Linked DNA regions of Homo sapiens: all the other regions are linked to region 3. The links come from fine-mapping of genetic effects on gene expression. A gene starts in region 3. Each other region holds a variant in brackets. All regions are shown on one strand. Distances are between the middles of the regions. Region 1 overlaps CLEC4D (C-type lectin domain family 4 member D). Region 2 holds the start of LOC124902872 (a long non-coding RNA gene). Region 3 holds the start of CLEC4E (C-type lectin domain family 4 member E).

Region 1 (8,301 bases), 22 kb before region 3:
AGAGGAAGGACATAGAGTCAAATAAGTTGGATAACAGAAACTTCTTTATAAAATGTATATTGGACCAAGAGGGGAGATAAAATATATAAAAGAGAAATAAGATGAAAAGAAAGAGAGTAATATGAGAAGATTCTTTTAAAGAAAAAAGAGAAAAGGAAGATGTAGAAAAAGCATTTAGGCTTATGCTGTATCAGAGGCTCTAACTGTCCCATTTTATGTTTGACTTAAGTGACACCAGTGGATTTGTATTGTGATAATATTAAATAATATTTTTGATAGATATATAGAACAAGTGTGGAAATGTTTAAATTAAAATTAAAGTTTTACTTTATCTCATCACCCTACCATGGCAAACTGTAATCACAGTGTGATCCTATTGAATTACCTTTTTAGGTAACAATATTTCTTAGAGATTTTTTGCATCAATATATACTGATTACATGCTTATTTAATTACTATACAGAATATCATTGTGTGAAGGGACCATAATTTAGAATTTCCACTATTGATAATATACATGTAAATATTAGATTACAGTATGTGTTTTCTATTTTGAGAAGTACTGCAATGAATATCTTTTAACATAAACAAGCTCAATTATTTCTATAGAATAGACACCTGTAATTGAAATTATTGTGGCAAATGAAATGCATTTAAAAATGGATAAATGCCACTAAATTGATCCTTCTAAAAGGCATTCCTAATTTTCCAGTCCAGGCAGCAGCATTTATTTTCTCACTAAGAGTGCTTATTTCCCCTCAGCCTTGCCAACACTGCATGTACTTAATTTACTTAAAAAATCTGATGTGTGAAAAGTTATACCACAATCTTTTCGTTTACAGTTCCCTGATTGGGCATATTTTTGTTTGATTAGTGGCTATTTATAACTTCAGCAAATTAAAATTTCAGCAAATTTCCTGCTCAGAGTTTTGCTCAGTTTTCTAGTTGATTTTGAAATACTTTATCCAGTGCGGATATTAATATTATGAGAAGACTTTCCTTTCATACGTTCCTTGACTCTAACATTGCTTGTGTTATATAGAAGTTTTAATTTTTATGTACTCAAATTATCTATTCTAATGGCTCTTGGGTTTTGTATCTTACTTATAAAATTCTTTTCATTTCAAAATTACCAAGAAATTTTACATTTTTCTTTCTTATTTATTTATTCATCAATAAGCTCTAAAATTGATTTATTTGGAGAAAATATTTATGCTCTTCTCTAGATCTGAAATATTTGGTTTGCTGTCACTTTTAGATTGCTCCTTGGTAGAATTAGCTTTCCTAGCTTGTAGCTGAGAGGAGGTTAATCTCTATTTTTCTTTTGGTCCTAGTGGAAGGAGGCATGCATCCCCAGCTGATACCTTCGGTTATTGCTGTAGTTTTCATCTTACTTCTCAGTGTCTGTTTTATTGCAAGTTGTTTGGGTAAGTTATTAGCCAAAGTAGAACTCTTCTTGAATTATTATTTCCAAACAACTTTTCTGAAGTTGCTCTAAGCCTTTTGGTATCTTGATTTTTCCTAGCATAACCTATCTATAATATCTTCAGGGTCTTGCACTGAATATTCAGAGCTACATTCTTGACCTTCTGTCTTTCAATGGTGGTACCTTGTGATAGAGATTGATTGATGGAATTTAGACCATTTTCTGTACATGTAAAAGTTGGTTACTATAGCAAATTTCCCCCCATTTTGGACTGGGATCACAAAGGGATACATCTTATGAGAAAAGAGTAAGCAGAAGAAAAATAACTTTCAGATAGACTGGCTTTGAAAAGAACAAGGTTGGAAGAATTGTTCTCTCTCTCTCTTTCCCTCTCTTTCTTTCTTTTTTCCTTTCTTTCAACCTCTTTATTGATGTACGATTGACATATGAAAACCTGTACATATTTAATGTATACATCTCAATTTGGGGGATTAGTATACACCCTTGAAACCATCACCACCATTAAAAAAATTCTTTCTGATATCAAACATAAAATAATTATAATTAAAGTAATATGATATAGGTGCAAGACAAATAGACTAGAGGAAAATAAAGGAGAGCTTGGTTACAGATCCTGCATGTATATAAGACTCTTTATATAAAACAAAAGAAGATATCTCAGACATATGGGAAAAGGACAATTTTGTTCAATTAATGTTGCAGAGCCCATTGATTATTTATATTTAAAAGATGAAATTGGTCTCCTGCATCACACTGTATACAAAAACAAATCTAGAGCAGATTATTGTCCAAAATGTGAAAAGTAAATCAATAAAGTTTTAAGAAGATAAATGGAGAATATCCTCATGACCTGGAGGTAGAGAACGATTTCTTAAACAAGCCACAAAATGCACTAGAAAATAAACATTGACAAATTATACTACATTAAAATGAGTTACTGTACAACAAAACATACCAGTAACAGTGAAAATAAAAAGCCATAGGAGAAGATACTTGTAATGCATATAATTAATAAATAATTCACATGTAGATTATATACAAATTTTTTCAAACCAGTAGGAAAAATACTTACAATAAAAAAACTGGGCAAAGTCTTAAATAGGTACTAAAACAAAGAGAAAAATGAAATGTCTAATAAACACACAAAAGTGCCAGCCTCATTAATTAATTATCAGGGAAATGCAAATGCAACTCACAGTGAGACACCTTTGCAAACATAACAGGATGGCAACAATAAAAAGTCTGGCACTACTAAATATTGATGATGCCATGGAGCAAATGGACCTCTAGTGAATTGCTTCTGGTGGAGTTTAAGCATTACAGTCACTCTGGAAAAGTTTACCGCTATCATAGTTTACAATATTCGTACGCTATTGCCTGCAGTTCCACTCCTACGTATGTGCCCTACAGAAACGCATGCTTATGTGCTCCAAATGCATGGTTGAAAATGCTCAGAAGAGCATAGTTCACAGTAGCCAAACACTGGAAACAAGGCACACATCTAATAGGAGTAGAATAGATAAATATATTTTGTTTCAGGAAGACAATAGTTCACTTTACAGCAATGACAATGGATGAATTATAGCGGGCACGTAACAAAATAGACAAATTTCAGAAACAATTCTCAACAAAAGACAGAATCAGAATACATACTGTGTGATTGCCGTTCAAAAACAGGCAAATCTGATCTATAGGGACATGTTAGTAAGTGACAAAATTGTGAAGCAAAGCACAGCGGTTACTTTAAAAGCCAAGAGTGGTTACCTGTAAAGGAGAGTGGTTACCTATAAAGGCGAGGGAGTGAGCTGCCTTTGAGATGTGAAGGCTATCTGGGGTTTTGGCAATATTCTGTTTCTTGAGCTGAGTAGTTGTTACCTGGAGTGTTCACCTTACAATAATTTGCTAAACTGTTTTCCACTTTTTTACATTTGTTTATTTTTTATTATTTATTTATATTTATTTTATTATACTTTAAGTTTTAGGGTACATGTGCACAACGTGCAGGTTAGTTACATATGCATACATGTGCCATGTTGGTGTGCTGCACCCAGTAACTCATCAGTTAACATTAGGCATATCTCCAAATGCTATCCCTCCCCCCTCCCCCCACCCCACAACAGGCCCCGGTGTGTGCTGTCCAGGAAGGGTACATTTGTTTATATATTTCAAGGTGAAAGTATTTTAGAAATGCATAAGGTTCATACAACCCAGCGCGCACCAAAAACCCCTATTCTAACACAAATTTTGATAGAAAAACATGCTTGCAAGCATGTGCACATAAAAGTTTGCAAAACTTCTCCCGTAAAGAACAAAACGGGCCGGACGCGGTGGCTCACGCCTGTAATCCCAGCACTTTGGGAGGCCGAGGCAGGCGGATCTCGAGGTCAGGAGATCAAGACCATCCTGGCTAACAAGGTGAAACCCCGTCTCTACTAAAAACAGAAAAAATTAGCCGGACGTGGTGGCGGGCGCCTGTAGTCCCAGCTACTCGGGAGGCTGAGGCAGGAGAATGATGTGAACCCGGGAGGCGGAGCTTGCAGTGAGCCGAAATCGCGCCACTGCACTCCAGCCTGGGTGACAGAGCGAGACTCCGTCTCAGAAAAAAAAAGGACAATATGATAATAAAAATATTAATTTTCAACAATTGCTTTCAACCAATTCACCTGGAGCTGAAACAAACAAGCTGCATAGAAAGAAAAGAGAATATGAGGGCCTTAATTATTAGGATAAGAGAAAATTTAGGAAGGTCAGCCCCTATTTCCCTAATTAGTGGTTATATAGAAAAAGAAACCTAACTTGCTTTTATCCTTGACAGTGACTCATCACAACTTTTCACGCTGTAAGAGAGGCACAGGAGTGCACAAGTTAGAGCACCATGCAAAGCTCAAATGCATCAAAGAGAAATCAGAACTGAAAAGTGCTGAAGGTACAGAGTGTAAGATAATTTCTTTTTTAATTTCCATTTTCGTTCAAATTCATAGTCTGACTGAAGGAATGTCAGTAGTGAACCAGGAAAGATTAAAATAGCATAAG[A/G]TGAGAATCTGGCATCGGAGTAAATAAGAATACCTTAAGATAGAATTATTTCTCATTACTGTAATCCAGTTAATAACCGGAGAATATAGCTTTACAGATGGATGGGTTATTTTTGACATCCAAAACATAACATTAATCAGATTCAATTTTCCCTTGATTCAGACATATGATAAAGACAGTTTCCTCCTAGAATATACAGCTTTGCTGACATGTCTTTATTTCTTTTATTATTGTGGAATTTGTCATCTCATTTGGGAGAATGGGGCAGTGCTTAAGTTTTAGTAGGTTCTTTACCCACTTTAGGTAAAATATCCTGCAAAAGCTTCGTAATGGAAACACTTTAAATGTGCAAGTCAACAGATGTAGGAACAATGAATAACAGTCATGCCTTCTAAGGCAATATTTTGTGATTTTCTCGTAGTCATTATGTGGTGTCCAGTACTTATGTTTAGAAGATATTTAGGAATGTAATTTTCAGGATCTTTTGGTAGGAGAACAGAATAATTTTGGTGATCTTGATATTATTCTCACAAATATTAATTGGATATAGGTAGTAGAATAGTTATGCAATCTGTTACAGATGAAATGCTCTTTTGTTACCAATTTCCGTTTTAATTTTCACTTGAGGGAGCACCTGGAACTGTTGTCCTATTGACTGGAGAGCCTTCCAGTCCAACTGCTATTTTCCTCTTACTGACAACAAGACGTGGGCTGAGAGTGAAAGGAACTGTTCAGGGATGGGGGCCCATCTGATGACCATCAGCACGGAAGCTGAGCAGGTGTGTTGGGAGGATCACATCAGTTTCTCTGCTGCTTTGAATCTCTTTCCAGAAAAAGAGGAATTTCTCTGTCCTGTTATGCCTCTGTCTGTTTTCATCTGCTCCATCTGCCTGGAAAGCCCTTTCTTCCTCTTCAACTTTTTGTCATATGGCCAACTTCTTTTGGTCTTTCTATATTTGATTCATATGTTATTTCCTCCAGAAAGCTACCCTAACTACCTTCCTCATTCTACCCCTCCCTGTTCTAAGTGGGAAGTACTTCTGTAGGACTTTGTGCACAACGAGATCATGGCATTTACTTCACTCCACTATAATTGTCTGTTCACTGCTCCATCTCTTCCAGTGACTTTTACTACGTGGAGGGCTGGATCCATGCTCTACTCACCTTTGCGCTTCCAATGTCCCGTGCAGTGTGAGGCACACTGGATAGGTCTTGATAAATGTTTGGTTAGTAGGTGAATAAATGAATGGTTAATCAGGACTGAACTAGCTTCTCAGGATAAAGTACAGGAAAACTAATTCAGATGTATGGATCTAATGATAAGTAAAGAAATCTTAGGGTAAATTCTTTAAAGGCTAAAATTTATTTCCTCATGTAATATGTTTCCATTTATGTACCATGACTCAGATTCTAACTTTTTCTTGGTTAATAGTTTCCTCAAGGATTTTGTCTCCATAGGTTTACAATGTATAGGTTCGGTAATTCTGAATAAAATGGAATTTAATGAAATATGCACGCAATTAAAGAAGATATTAAAAACAAAACCTCCTAAAAAATCTAATCTTATTAAGCATTGTGCTAAAAGGGTTGCAAGTCTGACCTCACTTAATCTTCCTAGTAACTCTATAAAGTAGTGGAGTTGTCCCTTTTGAAGACAAGAGCACTGGGGGTTTGGTAAGATTGAAGCACTTACTAACATTACAGGCAGGATTTGAAAACAGATCTATCTGATGCCAGAGCTTTTGTGCTTAACCAGTAATCTAGTTGACATATTTCCTCTTTTTCCAACATCATAGCCATCACCTGATTCATGCAACTATATTAAAATTTACATTTTTATGCAGAACTTTATTATTCAGTTTCTGGATAGACGGCTTTCCTATTTCCTTGGACTTAGAGATGAGAATGCCAAAGGTCAGTGGCGTTGGGTGGACCAGACGCCATTTAACCCACGCAGAGTGTAAGTATATTGAGTGGGCTAAGGGGATTTATAAGCAAAGGTTAGAAGATGGTAGCAAGAAACATTCATTTTGAAGTGGAGTACATTGATATAAAAATGTTAAGAGAGACCACTGTAGGTTGAGTAATCTCCATATGCTATGTCCCAGTTCCAGAATGGTCCTATAATTTGCATGCAATTTTCAGTATTCTTATTTGCACAATGTCAATAATGAAAGAATGAATAGCATAGAAGTGATATAAAATTTGTTTTAGGCTTGACATTTAAATAAACAATATAAGCGATAAAAATTTTCTTTGAAAGAGAATCAAAATCTTGTCATTTTCTTTCTTGAAGCCAGTATCGTTTAGTAAAAATATAATGCAAAGCCACATGTGCAATTTAAAATTTTTTGTTAGTTATATTAAGAAAGTAAAAAGAAGCAAGTGAAATGTATTTTAATAACGTATTAATAATGTATTTAACCCAATATATCCAAATCTTATCATTTCAACATGTGATCATTATAAAATTATTACTGAGGTCTTTGACATTCTTCATTGGCACTAAGTCTTCAAAATACAGCACTTAAGACTTAAAGCACATTTCAATTCAGAGAAGCCACATTTCAAGTGCTCAGTAGCTACATGTGTCTAGTGAGTATAGTATTAGTGCAGTTCTAAACTGTTCACTAGGGACATTTCTCTGAATTGTCTCCTAATATATCTATATCTAATCTACACCTATAATCTACATTGTCTATATATACCTATAAATCTCTATCTATGTTGTTGTTCTTTCAGATTCTGGCATAAGAATGAACCCGACAACTCTCAGGGAGAAAACTGTGTTGTTCTTGTTTATAACCAAGATAAATGGGCCTGGAATGATGTTCCTTGTAACTTTGAAGCAAGTAGGATTTGTAAAATACCTGGAACAACATTGAACTAGAAACTCAGAAAGTGGTCCTTGTGATGGAAAGAGAAAAGAAAAACCAATTAGAATAAGGCAGAATGTACGTGCGTCATTGGAACACAGAAAACATGCTGGTTCATACAGCGTTTTTAGTCATAATGGTCTTTTTTATTTTGTTTGATTCATTCGAGACAACATGTGTGTATGTGTGTGTGTGTGTGTGTAGATAATGTGGTTTTTGTATGGTGTTTGATGGAAGGAATAATCTTTCTTTGCTTTCTTAGTAGTATTTCAAGGTGTTTACTTTTCAATTGGTGTGCACTGAATGCATGTATGGAAGAATAGCGTGAATAATGCAATCTCTTTGTCATTTTTCCCCTTCTCAGACTCTTAGCTCTTAAAATTCAAAGATGGGATATTCTAACTGGTAGTGGTGCATCATTTTTAACCCAAATATTGCAAGCACTTTAAAGATTTGAAACCACATTTTTATTGTTTGATGTTTCATTTTCAGACTTTTTAATGTCAGTCATTACAATTACATTGCATGAGGAAAATTTTTCCAGAACAACAGTGTGGAATAGTTCTGAATTATGCTGTTCTACAGATAGAAAAAAAGTCCAAATGCCTTTAAAAATTTACTTCTTACTCCACCCAACACGTTTTTGCAAAGCAAGAAGTCTTTGTAAGACACCTTAAACAAAGTCCTTCAATTCTACAGCAGAGGAAATAAAATCCCCCAGAAGCCAAAGGGCTCACCTTCACATTGTTAGTTCATGACAGACCCAGGTGTGCTTCATTAGAGATAACATACATTCCCTTTGGTATCACAGGAAGTTACTGGGGATTACTCGACCTCATTACTTAGCTAACGACTGGATAAAATTTCTTAATTGTTTGAAGTAACATTGTATTCGTGTTTGCATTATTAATTTGAATAGAAAATAATCACATTTTCAACCCATTT
Region 2 (8,301 bases), 27 kb after region 3:
CCTTAACCAAGATGAACACTCAGAAATGACAGATGAAAAATACAAAGTATGGATTGCAAGGAAGCTCAATGAGATCCAAGAGAAGCTTGAAAACCAACACAAAGAAACCATGAAAGCAATCCAGGAGATGAAGAGATAGATATCTAAAAAACAGAAGTTCTAAAAATGAAAAATTCACTTAAAGATTTTCAAAATATATTTGAAAGCTTTAATAATAGATTAGGTCAAGCAGAAGAAGGAATTTCAGAGCCTGAAGACTGCTCTTTCAAATTAACTCAGTCAAATAAAAATAAAGAAAAAAAGAATTTTTAAAAAATGAAAATTCAAGAAATATGGGATTATGTAAAGTGACCAAACCTATGACTTACAGGCATTCTTGGAAGAGAAGAAAAGATAAGCAACCTGGAAAGCATATTTAAAAGAATAATTCAGAAAAAATTATCTAATCTTACTAGAGAAGTAGACTTCCAGGTACAAGAAAGTCAGAAAATACCTTTAAGATACAAAATGCCACTGCACTCCAGCCTGGGCGACAGAGCAAGACTCTGTATCAAACAGAAACAAAAACAAAACAAAGATATGCTTGCAAAAATATGAAATGGCAGATGCACATGGTTATTTGCACCATTATTTTCAAAAGTCAAACTGGAGCACCATCTGAATATTCATCAAATTCAGGACTGATGAGGCAGAGCAACACAATGGATTATTATGCAGATATACAAGAGAATGCGGAAGCTCTGTAAAGTAGGGTGTGAACTCCAGGACACAGGGTGAAGTGAAGAAAGCAAGGTGCAGAAATTGCACACAGTATGCCATCTTTTGTACTGGGGAAAGGAATACAAAGCAGCGGGGAAAGGAATGTGTATGCATGTATATGTAAATACAGTCATTAAAACTGAAAACAAAGTGGCACAAATAAACCTAATTCCCTATCGAGTTGGCATTGCTGCCTTAACCACACAGAGGAAAGTAACTGACTTCAGAGCACAGTATCTTCACTGTATTTCTTCAGTATGATATAATCCAAAGACACAAATACTGCATAGACATCTCAATGTCACTTGAAGTGAAATAACATAAAAATGGGAACAGACTCCTGCTGCTGCTCCAGAAAGATGAACATGAGAAAGGGACCATTATCTCTAATGTTTTCTCATGTAGAAAATGCAGGGAATAGCTTAAATCGAAGTTCAACTTTGGGAGCTGATAATTGAGTGAAAGTCTTCTTCCTTGATTGCCCTGGGAAGAAATCTTCATTTTTGGTTTGCAAGACCATGAAAATGAGACAATAAATACAACAAATGAAATACTTTACACTCAAAAACTATTTTTAAAAAAACAGACAAAATATAGAAAATAAGTATAAGTAACATATTCAAAGAGACATTAAACGACATTTTATTAATTTTAAAAGCTATAGATTATAGAAATAAAAATTTTCCGTATGAAATTTCCCTCCTAAGGGTCGGCCCAAGTCCAGGACCTGTCTGGGAATTGTGGACATATCGGTAGGACACGGGCAAGGATTGCCATCTCGCTCAGCACCTGTTTCCTTGAACGATGAGAATAACCCATCTCTCCTGTTTTAAGTGTGATTTGTCATATACATCAATAGGCATCTTGGCTCAACATACGAAAGCCCCTTTCCACAGAGACAGCTGCCTCCAGCCTGAAGAAGTTGCCACAGGAGGTAGAAGGAGGTCCCTTGCCCATGCCTGGGAGACCCAGCCAGAGTGGACAGGGAGGCGGCCCGGGCCGGGGTGCCAGACTCAGCAAATAAACACAGCATGCCCAGGTAACTCTGAATTTCAGATAACCAACGAATAACTTTGTGTGATACTATATTTGTACTCAAAAGTAACTCGTTTATCTGAAATTCAAAGTTGACGGCGCATGTGGTACTGTATTGAATCTGGCAACGCTCCACCTTGGTTTTCCTACCCGGGTTTGTGGAAGGGGCTCCCCCTGCCCCGCAGGTGCCGCCCCGAGGAGGTGGAGGAGGAGGAGCCGGGCACTGACTGGGGACCCAGGTGAGTCTAGCAAATGACAAGGCCCAACGGTCAAAACCGCCTCAGTAATGCGCTCGTCCAAAGCACGCACTTAACGCTCAATCCTGGTGTCGCGTCCCGTTGCCAGGCAACGAAAGCAAGCGCTGCAAAGACGAAGGGGAGCGCCCAAGGATGAGGAACGTTCCAAGACACTGAGTGATTTGCTGAAAATCACACATCTAGTAAGTGGCAGAATCAGATAAGGAAACTGCAGCATAGACAGATTAAGTAATTTAGTTAAGGTCACACAAGTAGTATTTGGGGAAGCCAGGATTTGAGTCCAGGAAGTCAGGGTTCAATGCTCATGATTATCCTGATATAGAATAAAATATTTGTAGCTTAAAAGAATGAACCGGACATATCCTCTCTGATATTCTCTGTTGTTTCAAGTTCTCTTCATCAGGATATTCTGAAAAGGGGTTATTCACTCTTTTCCTCCATAAAGAATAGCGTAACTACGTGACTCATTAATAGCTCTGTCCAAATGAAAGAAAAATCTGACAGCGATTTGGAGCTTAATGTGAAATGGTGTACTCACAATAGATTCATATATTAGGATGGAAGGGTGTGCGAGATCATTTCTCCTGGATAGACAGACCCCCACTCCTGGGGGAGGGGTCACTCCTTGATTGAAAAAGAATGTTGCTAATTATACTCATGTTTGTCTTATGTTATTTACTAATTCTAGGATGCAAAGCCAGAATGCGAGCAGTGACCACCACACTTGACAAATCCGTTGTTGCACACATTTGTACTCTTCAATCAACAAAACCTGATGCAAAAAACAGAAAAGGGGGAGATGTACATGCATTTTCCCTCACTGCAAAAAAAACACAACTTGTTTAACTACAGGTGTGTTCCTGGTGGTCTTTGAATGAAGACATTGACAGAAAGTAACATAGCATGCTGGTTAAAGACTGTTTTTATTCGAATCCTGGCTTTGCCAATCAACAGCTGCATAAATTAAACTCTCGACCTCAGCTCCCTTATTTGTAAAACAAGAATAACAAAAAGACATTTTTATAAGGTTGGGTTGAAGGTTAAATGAAATAACAGAAGATTATCTCTTCACTAATTTTAGCTGTAGAAAACAGAAGCCAATCGAAAGAGCTCCCAGTCCAAAGCTGGAACAACTTGAACAACAAAATAAATAATGTAGCATTGGATTACAAACCAACCATAAAACAAATATCCATGAGTCTATACTGATGTCAATAAATGAATAAATGTGGGAAAATAGACAAATCTCCTTTCTCATACAGAAGGATTCCAAATAATTTGTGTAGATATTTCACTTTTAACTTGTTCTGTGGCTACGCATTAAGTCAGGATTTCCTTTCTTGCATAAGGAGGACAA[G/T]GAAGTTTATTGGACAGCATGTCAGTTCTCTTCACTCCATGCAACAACAAAATGAGGAAATTATGAAATGGTAAGCATCAACACAAATAGGCTGGCCATGGGGAAATAGGAGAGTTTTTTTTAAATGTTGTTTCGTTTTGTTGGACCAAATGTCTCTAGTTTCTTCAAGGCATAACTCATCCCCCAGTTTTTCCTTGACAATATGGAGCTCACCTCTGCACTCTCATAGCCAACTGAACTCATGGCAGGATGCCATGTTACTTGGGTTAATTTCTGGAAAGCTTCTACATACCTATTAGGGCCATCTGAAAACCTGCCAAGATCCCCCTTAGTTTGCAATAAATCCTGAAGAGAAAAGGGCACCTGGATCTTAACAGGGCCATATTCATCAGGCATCTGTTGTAGGGGCAGGAGTGAGACTGGCACCTGCCTAAAATGAGGATTTCTAGAGGTACCTAGAGGTATCTCTGGGGCTTGCTTCCCTATTTCCTTGGGATTGCCCCTTGTAACCTCTCCTGAGATGGCCACTAGGAGGGCTGAATCAATCCTACAATGTTGGCAAAGATCCAGGTTAACATGCAAGGCAAAGAAGGCCTGCACATAAGGGACCTAGGACCCTTTGCCCTCATGTTTACAGAAAAGCTTCCTTCCTGAGGCAAGGCTTCTCTTCTGTGCCTCAAGGTGCTTGGCACTAAGTTGGCAACCAAGTAAATTACAAGAACATTTTCACCACAAATTTACATACAGATACCAAGACACACTTTGCTACATCTGTGCTACTCTTACACTTTGGTGACCAAGCCAAATGCTCATTCCACCCAGTAATATCTCTGGCTTGCAACAACATCCTTTACATTTAACATCGTATATAAAAGAGATAGGAACCATGATAGCCATGAAAGAAAGAAAAGAACAATAGGAAAGGCTGAAGGTCCTAGTGCGGACACCCTAATGGGCAGTTGGGGACTGGAGTTAGTCCAGGAGCCTTTGAATAACACCAAAGTGTAGCCTTGGCCAGATACCCTCAGTTGCCCCAGGACCTCCTTCCAGTCCCATGAGATGGCTAGACCTCCATGAAGGGAAATTGGGTTAGAACAAAGCCAACATTCCCAACACCTGAGGTTGATGGGGGATTGACAGTGTCCCTCCCCAGCAAGCCTGTCCTTCATGTCTTAAGTTCTGCAGCTGCACTAGTTGCTTTTAACTGGTTGACAGAAGCCTGGTATTTTTCTTTCATTTTGACTATTGTGGAGTTTAGAGACTCCAAAAGAAAGGACAGAAAGTAGATCCACTTTTACTTACCCTTTTGGAGATCCCAGATGAGCCCCCAAAATGTTACAGTGTCACTGCCAGTGGTGCCAAATCCTGCCTATGCAGACAAGTGGAAGGTGAACAAGACAAAGAAGAGCTTTATTGAGTGTTACAGCTCAGAGAAAATCCACAGTGGGTTGCTCCTCTCTGTAGGCAGATCATCCAATCAAGTGTCCAGCTCTCAGCAGAGAGGAGGCTCTGAAGAGGGTAGCTCCTCTCTGCCCACTGGTTGCCCCATTGTCTGCTGTTCTTAGCAGAGCGAAGACCTTGGAGAGGGTGACTCCTCTCTGCAGGCAGTTCATTCAATGTCTCTGCAGGTCTCTGAAGCTCTCACAGAGAAGGTAGCTCCTCTTTGCAGCTGGTTGTCCAGTCCTCTCTCAGTCCTCTGTCCTCTGCCCTTCTCTGGCTGAGCCCAGGGCTTTTCTCTGCCCTCTACTTTACTCTGGCTGAGCCCTAGGCTTTTATGGACCTCAGATGGGAGGAAGTGCCTGCCGATTGGTCCATGACTGGCCATGGGTGGGCCTAGAGGAGATACCACATGTCCCCGCTCCAGTCTGTGGGACTGGCAGCTGGGCCCCCAGCCTTCAAGGCTTCCCTGGCCTGAAGGAGAGGCCTTACTGGGGACCGCCCCCTTCCACCCAGGAATCTGTGCACCTCCCCACTGCCATTTTTGGTCCCTGGCTCAGCTGCAACCCCACCCCGAGATTGAAGCAGGTGGTGGGAGAGAAGAGAGGCCAGGCAGTGGAAGCATATCCCCTCAAGCCTGCAGGGACTGGGGGGCCTTCCCAAGGCCTGAAGGTGAAGGCTGCAGAGATGCCTGGCCCTGTACCTGGGAGGGTGGCTGCAGAGGCATCCGGGGAGCTCCCACACTACCAACTCAGAAGGGGTGGGGGTCCCACTTGTCCCCAGCTCCTGCCTGTTCTGTGGATTAGGAGGCCCAGGTCTGTAGCCATGGGTGGGGCAGCTGCAGCTGCACCTGGGAGGGCAGATCCTGTCTGCTCCAGGCCCCCTCCAAGAGCACAGGGAGGCTCAGATCCACAGTGGCAGTTTGGACAGCTGCAGCCTTGCCCAGGAGGTGGGGCTCCTTCGTGCAGGAGACCTGGGTCTGCAGCCACCATTCTGGCAGCTGCAGCAACACCCAGGGAACTCTGGCCTCAACTCAGAAGGGGGCGCAGCTCCCACGGGCTCCTTGGAGTGTGCAGCCCCTCCTGCAGGCAGTGTGATGGCAGCAGCTACTGCCATCACTGCTAACCAAAAATCAGTCATGTGGCTCCAACTAACTAAGACTAAGAAGAAGACTAAGAAACAGTCCAGCTGCATGTCTAGGGAAAAATGAAAATGGAGTTTGGACACAGCATCCATCAATAGATCAAGAAAATGGGGTATATGGGCTGGCTCAGTGGCTCACACCTGTAATCTCAGCAGTTTGGGAGGCCAAGGTGGGAAAATTGCTTGAGGCCGGGAGTTTGAAACCAGCCTGGGCAACATAGCAAGGCCCTGTCTCTAAAAAATTAAAAAATTTGAAATTAGAAAAGTAAAAATGTGGTATACATATACAATGGAATATTATTAAGCCATGAAACAGAATAAAATCCTGCAATTGAAGCAACATGGATAGAACTGGAGGTCATTATGTTACATAAAATAAGCCAAGGACAGAAGGACAAATATCACATGTTGTTGCTCATATGTGGGAGCTAAAAAAGTGGTTCTGATGAAGATTGAGAGTAGAATGATGGTTACTGGAGGTTGGGAGGGGTAGGAAGGAGGATGAGATGAAGAGAGGCTAATTAATGGGTACAAATATATAGTTAGATAGAAATAAGATCTAGTGTTTGATAGATCAATCCGGTGACTATAGTTAACAATACTCTATTGTACATTTTAAAATAGCTGGCAGAGAATAATTCAAATGTTCCTAGCATAAAGAAAAAATAATTATTTAAGATGGTGATATCCCAATTACCCTGTTTTATCTTTACACATTATATGACTGTATCAAAATATCACATGTGGGCCGGGCATGTTGGCTCATGCCTGTAACCCAGCATTTTAGGAGGCTGAGGCAGGAGGATGGCTTGAGCCCAGGAGTTTCAGACTGACCTGGGCAATATAGCAAGACTCCGTCTCCACAAAAGACATGGTAGCATGTGCCTGCGGTCCTAGCTACTTGGGAGGCCAAGAAAGGAAGATCACTTGAGTCCAGGAGTTTGAGGCTGCAGTGAGCTATGATCTCACCACTGCATTTCAGCCTTGGCAACAGAGTGAGACCCTATCTCAAAAATAACAAAACAAAAACAACAAAAAAATCACATTTACCCTGAAAACATCTTCATCTATTATATATTAATTAAAAGTTAAAAAGAAGAAAGAAAGCAAAGGAGAACACATAGAGATATAGCGTCCCTATCACAATGAGAAAACTAGGAAATAAACATGCAACTTGGCCAGGGTCAGAGAGAAAATACCGTGGCAGAAATGGTACTAAAACTTAATGTGGTTTTTTTTCTTCTCCTGAAGCATTCAAGATCTGCCAGGAATCAATATATCAGCATAATGGAGTCAGATTGGCTCGGTCATTTTTCTGGCTTGCCCTTCCTGGGTTGGTGTGGCAATAAGGCAGTCTCTTTTGGGGGCATGAAAAGAGCTGGGAACTTGCTAGCTGTCCATATGAAGATTATACATTTTTTAACTGCTGTGACAGATATTGTTTATAAATTGTTCTTACGAAAATATTTATAGTGGGTGACCCGGGTGCAGTGGCTCACACCTGTAATCCTAACACTTCAGGGAGGCTGAAGTGGGCAGATCACCTGAGGTAAGGAGTTAGAGACCAGCCTGGCTAACATGGTGAAACCCCGTCTCTACTAAAAATATAAAAAGTAGCTGGGTGAGGTGGCGCATGCATGTAATCCCAGCTACTCAGGAGGCTGAGGCAGGAGAGTTACTTGCAGTGAGGTTGCAGTGAGCCAAGAACACACCACTGCACTCCATCCTGGGTGACAGAGCAAGACTCCATCTGAAAAATGTATGTATATATATATATATATATATGTGTGTGTGTGTGTGTGTGTGTGTGTGTGTGTGTGTGTATACGTGATATACACGTGTATATATATACATATATATGTGAAAAAATGTATATATGAAAAAATCCCCTCAAAGTTAGAAGGCAGTCTCTCACATGAGCTGATATGTTTCCTTACATTATACAAGAACAATGTAAAGCATTTTTTTAAAAAAATTATCATATGTTTTGGTTTCGAAGAAGCTGAGAGCTAAATTTTATATAAATCTGTACCTTGGCCAGGCACGGTGGCTCACACCTGTAATCCTAGCACTTTGGGATGCCAAGGTGGGTGGATCACCTGAGGTCAGGAGTTCAAGACCAGCCTGGCCAACATGGCAAAACCCCTCTCTACTAAAAATACAAAAATGAGCCAGGTGTGGTAGCACATGTCTGTAATCCCAGCTACTCAGGAGGCTGAGGAAGGAGAATCGCTTGAACCCAGAAGGTGGAGGTTGCAGTGGGCCGAGATCGTGCCACTACACTCCAGCCTGCGCGATGCGAGCAAGACTCCA
Region 3 (8,301 bases):
ACTTCTCCTTCATCTTTTCTACCTTAGCTCTTCTCTTTCCTGCATTTAATACCACCACCAATAATGGACCTGATCTATTGCAGGTAACAGAAGGAGGTTTCAAGAACTCCTCTCAATAGGAGGGTAATTACCTCAGAGACTTTGTCAAAGGTGTGCCGTCCACCCATTGCCACTGACCCTCGACAACCTGGTCTGACAGTCCAATAAAAAACTCTCTCATTTTAGGTTTCTTGTAGGAAAGGAATTCCTATGGAAGATACAAAATAAAAGGAGATCAGTTATTTTAGTTTTGAATAAACGTTGCTAGTAATTATTATTCAAAGAGGTAAGAATCTGGATGAGATCCTAGCACTTTGGGAGGCCGAGGCGGGTGGATCACCTGAGGTCAGGAGTTCAAGACCAGCTTGACCAACATGGCGAAACCCTGTCTCTACTAAAAGTATAAAAAAATTTGCCAGGCATGGTGGCGGGTGCCTGTAGTCCCAGCTACTTGGGAGGCTGAGGCAGGAGAATCGCTTGAACCTGGGAGGCAGAGGTTGCAGTGAGCCGAGATTGCGCCACTGCACTCCAGCCTGGGCAACACAGCAAGACTCCATCTCAAAAAGTAAAAAAGAATCTGGATGAGAAATAACAGATAAGTGAAACTGTAAGATCATGAGGATTATCTACTGATTTTTTTTTGTGGTAAAATATACATAACATAAAATTAAACTGAAAAAATAACCTTCAACAGAAAAGGAGATCCTCAATAATTCTTTCAAAGTTTATCTACTATTATTGGTGGCCAAATTTATTGAATATATCTAGCGCAAAATATTATTAATCACAGCTTAAAGAAAACGGACAATATTTGCTTCTCTTCTTTCATATAATATGTTCATAAACATAACGATTCGTCTAAAATTAACACTTCCAACCCTCTTTTTCCCCTTGCCTAACTAAAGGAACTCCACATGGAAATTCCCTTTTTCTTAGGTTCTTCTAGGAAGGAAAATAAATTAAGGTAGGCAGTGACTTTACCGAAATAGTAAGAACAGCATGCATTTTAGTACATTCATTAACAATAGTCATTGGGGGTCAAGCACTGTGCATATGTATGAAAAGAGAGGTGGACCATGTCGGGAATGTTACATTGGCATCGGAGGACTCCAGCTACCTGCTCCTCCTGTGAGTTGATAACCACCAGGTGAGCCCCCATGGCTGAGCAGTTCTTTAAACTTAACGCCCAGGAAATGGTGTCAGTAGAAAAGAAGTAGCAGCTGGATTGAAAATATTCCCAGTTCAATGGACAACAATTCTTGACTGAACCTAGGATGAGAGATGTTTCAGTGAGTGTCCCAGGTGAACCGAATAAGAAAACCCAAAGCTTCATCTGGCCCCATGGAGTCCTCATTTAAGTCAGAAGCCTTGGAATCACTTGTTCATACCCTACATCTTAGTATCTAAGACTTTAGATAATTCCAATGTCAAGAAACATAAACAGAATGTTTTTGGTCTTTTGAACGTAATTCTCATTCTCTGGATGTCAGTGCCAGGAAATGCAACTATATATGCAAACTATCTTAGTTATGCTATTGATATAGAACCTTATTATCTGTTCTTAGACTACTAATGTCAGAGAAATTTATGCATTTTATTTGGGTGACCCCCAAAGAGCCATCTCTTATGTTACCTAAACAATGTATCCTCAATCAAATCTCCATACTGTAGTATATAGATGGGTTAGATGTGGGCGGCAAGCCACCCAGGCGCTGAGGCAAGAGACAGAGGACACGAGCTGTTCCAGTATAATAAAATATAAAACAAGAATAGTTATACCAGATATAGATCTTAGATATGATTATATATGAATATCATTAATCATTAGTTTGTAGCAATTACTTTTTATTCCAATATTATAATAATCCTCGCTCTATAATCATAGCCAAGGAAAAACCAGGCCGTACAGAGCTACGAGCTGAGGGGACATAGTGAGGTGTGACCAGAAGACAAGAGTGCGAGCCTTCCGTTATGCCCGGACAGGGCCACCAGAGGGCTCCTTGGTCTAGCGGTGACGCCAGCGTCTGGGAAGACGCCCGTGGCCAGGCAGACAGACTGTGGTCTAGCGGTAGCGTTAAGTGTCAAGGGAAAACACCCGCTACTTAGCAGACAGGAAAAGGGAGTCTTCCTTTCCCTGGGGGAGTTTAGAGAAGACTCTGCTCCTCCACCTCTTGTGGAGGGCCTGACATTAGTCAGGCTTGCCCGCAGTTATCCGGAGGCCTAACCGTCTCCCTGTGATGCTGTGCTTCAGTGGTCACACTCCTAGTCTGCCTTCATGTTCCATCCTGTACACCTGGCTCTGCCTTCTAGATAGCAGTAGTAAATTAGCGAAAGTACTAATAGTCCCTGATATGCAGAAATAATAGCGTAAGCTGTCTTTCTCTCTGTCTCCTCTCCCTCTCTGCCTCGGCTGCCAGGCAGGGAAGGTCCCCCTGTCCAGTGGACACGTGACCCACATGACCTTACCTATCATTGGAGATGACTCACACTCTCTACCCTGCCCCTTTCACCTTGTATCCAATAAATAACAGCGCAGCCAGACATTCGGAGCCACTACCGGTCTCCGCGCATTGGTGGTAGTGGTCCCTTGGGCCCAGCTGCCTTTTCTTTTATCTCTTTGTCTTGTGTCTTTATTTCTACATGCTCTCGTCTCTGGACACAGGGAGAGACCCACCAACCCTGTGGGGCTGGTCCCTACAGTTAGATTTCTTAGAATTACAGAACTTTTGCCTTTGAGGTCTATTATAAATAATTCTTCTAACTTCTCTCAATTTAATGGTGAGAAAATTATAGCTCAGAGAAGGAAGTCACTTTTTTAGTGTCATGTAGCATTTTGCTAGGACTTGCAACAGGATGACATAGAAGAGCATAGAGAGTATATTTGTGAGATATTTATAAATTCTCTACTCCATACGTTTTTTCTCCATCTCATTTTGGAAGTAGGTGAATGAAAAAAAAGGTACACTCCTGGGAATAATACCTTCCACTTCCAGATTTACTGTTCAGACATACCCCTCAAATTTATTCTAAAAGTTTACTATAATGTCCCCAAGACTTTCTGCCCCAATGCTAATTGCATCACCAAATTTCTAGGATTTTACATTTTGCTTTTGAAAAATAAGACCTAATCCAGCTATATCTCACCTGTCCCAAAGTCAATCTAGAAGCCAGAAAATGTTGCTTTGTAAATTTTGATGTTCACCTTTGGGACTATTATACCTGATCCATAATTGTAGCAGGAGAGCTCTGTGAAATTCTCAGGTAGCTGAAACTTTTTCTCATCACAGGTTTGAAAGATGCGAAATGTCACTGTAAAAGAAAGGGCATAATGTTTGTTAGTCTTATTTCGGTTAAAAATGTCAGTTCCCTCAGTTTTGTATTTATAACAAAAGTGCCAATAATTATCATGTTTTTTCTTACAATCTGCTTTTTCTTACGACCCAGAGAAAATAGATATGTTTGCACTACCTCTTATGCCAAGTCCAACTCTCTCTACCCTTCCTTCCAAAAGTAATTAGTCATATCTCTGGTGCCGACCAGTAGTTCAAGCTCTAAGGCAGACTCTCCTAGAGAAGGTTACACTAATGATAGAGGCTGAAAGAGGAGGATTCAGGACTGCCAAGGAAGTGAAAAATGTCTATCATGAAAAGTAAGTCACAGGTGATTAAAATTCAGAAACAGTTCCCTGCTTGTTGAGGTTTCTGGTTTGAGAAATAACCTAGAGATTAATAGGGAAAAAAAAAAGGGTGAAATAGAAAGACCCTTTGAGGGCAAAGAGAGTCTACAGGCAGCATGGAAGAGTTTTCTCCTAATATGCACCAGGAAGAATTAAATTGAATTTGACCTTCAGAACCCACCAACACATCTGGTGATGAAACAGGCACTGAGAAATAGGATGGGGATCCCAGCAACAGTCCATAAGAACATTTGGGAAGAGAAGCATCCTCTCTCTGTAGAAAGAAAGACACAAACATGATCAATCTTCCCTAAGCAAGGTACAAAAGAGATAGAAGAGATTCTTATTCATCCTTACTTATTTCCTTCTACTTCCATTGTTTGTACTGAGTAATTCCCAAATTTCAGCATGCTTCAGAATCACTTGGAGGGTTTATGGAAACACAGATTGCTGACCCTTACCCCCAGAGTTAGCAACTCAGTAGAGTTTGTATGGAACCAACAAGTTCCCAGGGGCTACTGCTGCTGCTGGTCTGAGGACCACACGTTTAGCACCCCTGGAGTAAGACTCTGACTCATGAACTCAGATATACAATTTTTCCTTTCTAAGTCTCTCAGTTAAATTTTTTTCAGTATTTTCTAAGGCCCCCCTTCTTTCTTTTTCTTTCTTTTCCCTTTTCTCGTCTTTGCTTTTCTTGTCCTTCTCCTGATCTTTTTTTTTTTTCTGTGTCTCACTTTTCAAGCGCTTTGTAAATTAGGTAAAATGTTAACAGTCATCTAATAGTTCCTCTCTTCCTCCCATTAAACATTTTACAGACAAAGAGAGTTCCAGAGAAGTGAAGTGACTTGCCAAAAGGGACACAATGTATTGCAGAAAGGGTGGAAACTGATAGCTCTCCCTTAGCTAGAGGCCAGCAGGCTTTCTGGTATAAGAAATAGTCTTTAAATCTCTCTCTCTCTCTTCCTCTGTCCCCCCACTTTTTTTTTTAACTTCAGTGAATACTTTTCTATTGTCCTGTCTTTCACCATATTTATCACTTGTTCCAAAAAGAGATCTATGGAAGGAAAGGAAGAGTTGCAGATTTTACCTGTGCATTGTGTTTCAGATGATTTAGATGAATTCATTTTTTCTCTCTCTTTGGTTTTTTGTTTCTCTCTCTCTCTTTTTCTCTCCCTCCCTCTCTTTCTTTCTCCTCAGGAGTGTTTTGTTGGTAAGATTCAGGGAGAATGAATCTTGAAAGATAAACACTTTGTCTTTTAGGAAGTTCAGCTCCGATAGATGTAGAATATTAACTTGTTCTGTGGCTACGCATTAAGTCAGGATTTCCTTTCTTGCATAAGGAGGACAAGGAAGTTTATTGGACAGCATGTCAGTTCTCTTCACTCCATGTAACAACAAAATGAGGAAATTATGAAATGGTAAGCATCAACACAAATAGGCTAGCCATGGGGAAACAGGAGAGTTTTTTTTTTAAATGTTGTTTCGTTTCGTTGGACCAAATGTCTCTAGTTTCTTCAAGGCATAACTCATCCCCCAGTTTTTCCTTGACAATATGGAGCTCACCTCTGCACTCTGAATTTCACTTTGGATCTGTACCATCCACACATTTGGTAACTGAAAAGAAGACTTAGACAACATAGCACAAAGCTGGGCATATAGTGTATGTATTTAGGACATGGCAACCTGAATTTTTTCATCTTTTTTTTTTTTTTTTTTTTTGAGACAGAGTCTCGCTCTGTCGTCCAGGCTGGAGTGCAGTGGCATGATCTCCGCTCACTGCAAGCTCCGCCTCCCGGGTTCAAGCCATTCTCCTGCCTCAGCCTCCCGAGTAGCTGGGACTACAGGCGCTCGCCACCACGCCTGGCTAATTTTTTGTATTTTTAGCAGAGACGGGGTTTCACTGTGGTCGTCAGGATGGTTTCAATTTCCTGACCTCGTGATCCGCCCGCCTCAGCCTCCCAAAGTCCTGAGATTACAGGCGTGAGCCACCGCGCCCGTCCTCTTTTTCATCTTTTATGGTTTTTCTTTCTTCTTCATTTGCAGCTCTTGAATATTCTAATGTTGTGGATTTATGTCCCTCTTATCTTATGCTGACTACTAGGCTGCTACTACTAGGCTGACTACTAGAGTCCCCCTCAGCAGGACAGCCTCATGTGATTAGACCACTTTGAAACTCAGCTTAGTTTTTCACAACATAACGCAGCTTCTGAAGTCTCAGAGACCCAGCAGGCAGTTTAATTCTCCTGTTCTCAATTATTTGGGGATTTTAGTTCTATGTTACAGCCTACAGTAGGAGAAATGTATTTGAAGGTCAGAAAAAGCAATTTCAATTAGATATTAGAATTTAATGGTTCTCTGGGCCGGGAGCAGTGGCTCATGCCTGTAATTCCAACACTTTGGGAGGCCAAGGTGGGTGGATCATTTGAGGTCAGGAGTTTGAGACCAGCCTGGCCAACATGGTGAAACCCCACCTCTACTAAAAATACAAAAATTAGCCAAGTGTGGTGGCACGCATCTGTAATTCCAGATACTTGAGAGGCTGAGACAGGAGAATAGCTTGATCCTGGGAGGCAGAGGTTGCAGTGAGCCAAAATTGCACCACTGCACTCCAGCCTGGGCGATAGAGTGAGACTCTGTCTCAAAAAAAAAAAAAAAAAAGAATTAATGCTTCTCTGGAAGAATAGTTAGATATGTGCCTTCTCCTTACTTAAAGATACTTAAGAATAAGATCACACTGGTCTCAGTTTATTTAAGTTCACGAGTCAGGAGGCATAAGTATGATGTACATGACTTGGTAAATCCCCACATCCAGTGACTCACGAATTTTCCATGTGTGAGAAAATATTCTTGTTCTCAAAGGGACTTTTTATTATTTCAAGGTACTGGTCAATTTTCTCTGCATTCTCTGTTTTATAGTAATACAATTTTAAAAATATCTTTAAATTATATATGTGTATATTATAGAATATACCCATATTTAATATGTGTATTCTCAGCAAATAGCTTTTGATCAGTAAAAAAAGAGAAACTATCTAGTGGATGAGCTATATGAATTATAAAATGATGAACATAATTACCACAGTCCATCTTTTATTAATTACAATCAACCAGCAACCATCAATATTACTAAACAATTGTATGTTAATTTTTATCAATATACAATTAAACAGAAATCAATAAATTAATATTTTTTCCAGCCAAAATGTTTTTATATCTTTTGTTTCATTGATTTTCCCCAAATTATACGAGTAATATGTTTTATGATTAATACTATGAAAAGCATGTGACAAGTAAAAGCCTTCTTAACTATCCTTAGTGCATTCTTCTAAAGTTGACCATGCTTAATGATTTCTTTTTTGGGGGGGGGGATTAATTTTTATTTATTTTTATTTATCTTTTATTACACTTTAAGCTTTAGGGTACGTGTGCACAACGTGCAGGTTTGTTACATATGCATACATGTGCCATGCTGGTGTGCTGCACCCATTAACTCGTCATTTAGCATTAGGTATATCTCCTAATGCTATCCCTCCCCCCTCCCCCCACCCCACAACAGTCCCCAGAGTGTGATGTTCCCCTTCCTGGGTCCAAGTGTTCTCATTGTTCAATTCCCACCTATGAGTGAGAACATGCGGTGTTTGGTTTTTTGTTCTTGCGATAGTTTGCTGAGAATGATGGTTTCCAGCTTCATCCATGTGCCTACAAAGGACATGAACTCATCATTTTTTATGGCTGCATAGTATTCCATGGTGTATATGTGCCACATTTTCTTAATCCAGTCTATCATTGATGGACATTTGGGTTGGTTCCAAGTCTTTGCTATTGTGAATAGTGCCACAATAAACATACGTGTGCATGTGTCTTTATAGCAGCATGATTTATAATCCTTTGGGTATATACCCAGTAATGGGGTGGCTGGGTCAAATTGTATTTCTAGTTCTAGATCCCTGAGGAATCTCCACACTGACTTCCACAATGGTTGAACTAGTTTACGTCCCACCAACAGTGTAAAAGCATTCCTATTTCTCCACATCCTCTCCAGCACCTGTTGTTCAGCAATAGATTCTTTGATTTCCCTTTTTAAATATCATCCAGGAACTTATCGTCTAAGTCCCTTTTCTAAACTATATTGCCTGTCAATATTTCAGGCAACTGAAAAAGAATCAGTAAAAGCTGTAAACATCTATGCCATACGAGTATTGTTAGTATCTACTTTTCTTTGATGCCAAGAGAAACATCACTCAATTTTAGCCTTGGGGCAGATTTATTTTTTGTCTTTTCATCTAACATGCAATCACTAACTGATCCCAGGGCTGCTGCTTCCCAGGTTGACGGCCAGCCCTTTACCCTTGAACTGCCATCTATCTGTAAGCCACACTGCTGCCTTGACAGCTGACCAGAGAGAGGGGCCTATTCAGCTATAGGTTTAGCCAACTCCTCAGGGGAACCAAATTTATGGTGACCTGTCAGCCACCTGACTGTGCATGCATTGGGTAACCCCATTTCACATTCTTGAGTATCTCCTTTCTATTCAAGGAGGGAATTCTGTGCATTTCATTTCTTGTTGGAATGATGATATGATATAA

What was found. PIP is the estimated chance that this variant, and not a neighbour inherited with it, causes the effect.
Region 1: its variant is fine-mapped to the expression of CLEC4E in whole blood (TOPMed, PIP above 0.99).
Region 2: its variant is fine-mapped to the expression of CLEC4E in whole blood (TOPMed, PIP 0.99).

Annotation. Positions count from the first base shown.
Region 1 is chr12:8,513,902-8,522,202 of GRCh38, forward strand. It overlaps CLEC4D (C-type lectin domain family 4 member D), which reads left to right. Exons shown (of 6, transcript NM_080387.5): 2 at 1,335-1,427; 3 at 4,263-4,373; 4 at 5,108-5,259; 5 at 6,325-6,440; 6 at 7,223-8,301. The coding sequence ends at 7,370. Among named protein-coding and RNA genes, the nearest start is that of CLEC4D, 4.5 kb to the left of the region's middle. The variant A/G (reference allele first, on the strand shown) is at 4,481.
Region 2 is chr12:8,562,784-8,571,084 of GRCh38, forward strand. It overlaps LOC124902872 (a long non-coding RNA gene), which reads right to left and starts at 5,153. Exons shown (of 3, transcript XR_007063203.1): 1 at 4,711-5,153; 2 at 1,945-3,442. It overlaps LOC105369645 (a long non-coding RNA gene), which reads left to right and starts at 1,708. Exons shown (of 4, transcript XR_007063201.1): 1 at 1,708-1,798; 2 at 1,887-2,033; 3 at 2,140-2,233; 4 at 2,740-3,290. RefSeq lists enhancers at 599-1,231, 1,866-2,497. The variant G/T (reference allele first, on the strand shown) is at 3,409.
Region 3 is chr12:8,535,959-8,544,259 of GRCh38, forward strand. It overlaps CLEC4E (C-type lectin domain family 4 member E), which reads right to left and starts at 4,947. Exons shown (of 6, transcript NM_014358.4): 1 at 4,803-4,947; 2 at 3,897-3,989; 3 at 3,259-3,348; 4 at 1,157-1,308; 5 at 132-247. The coding sequence starts at 4,839.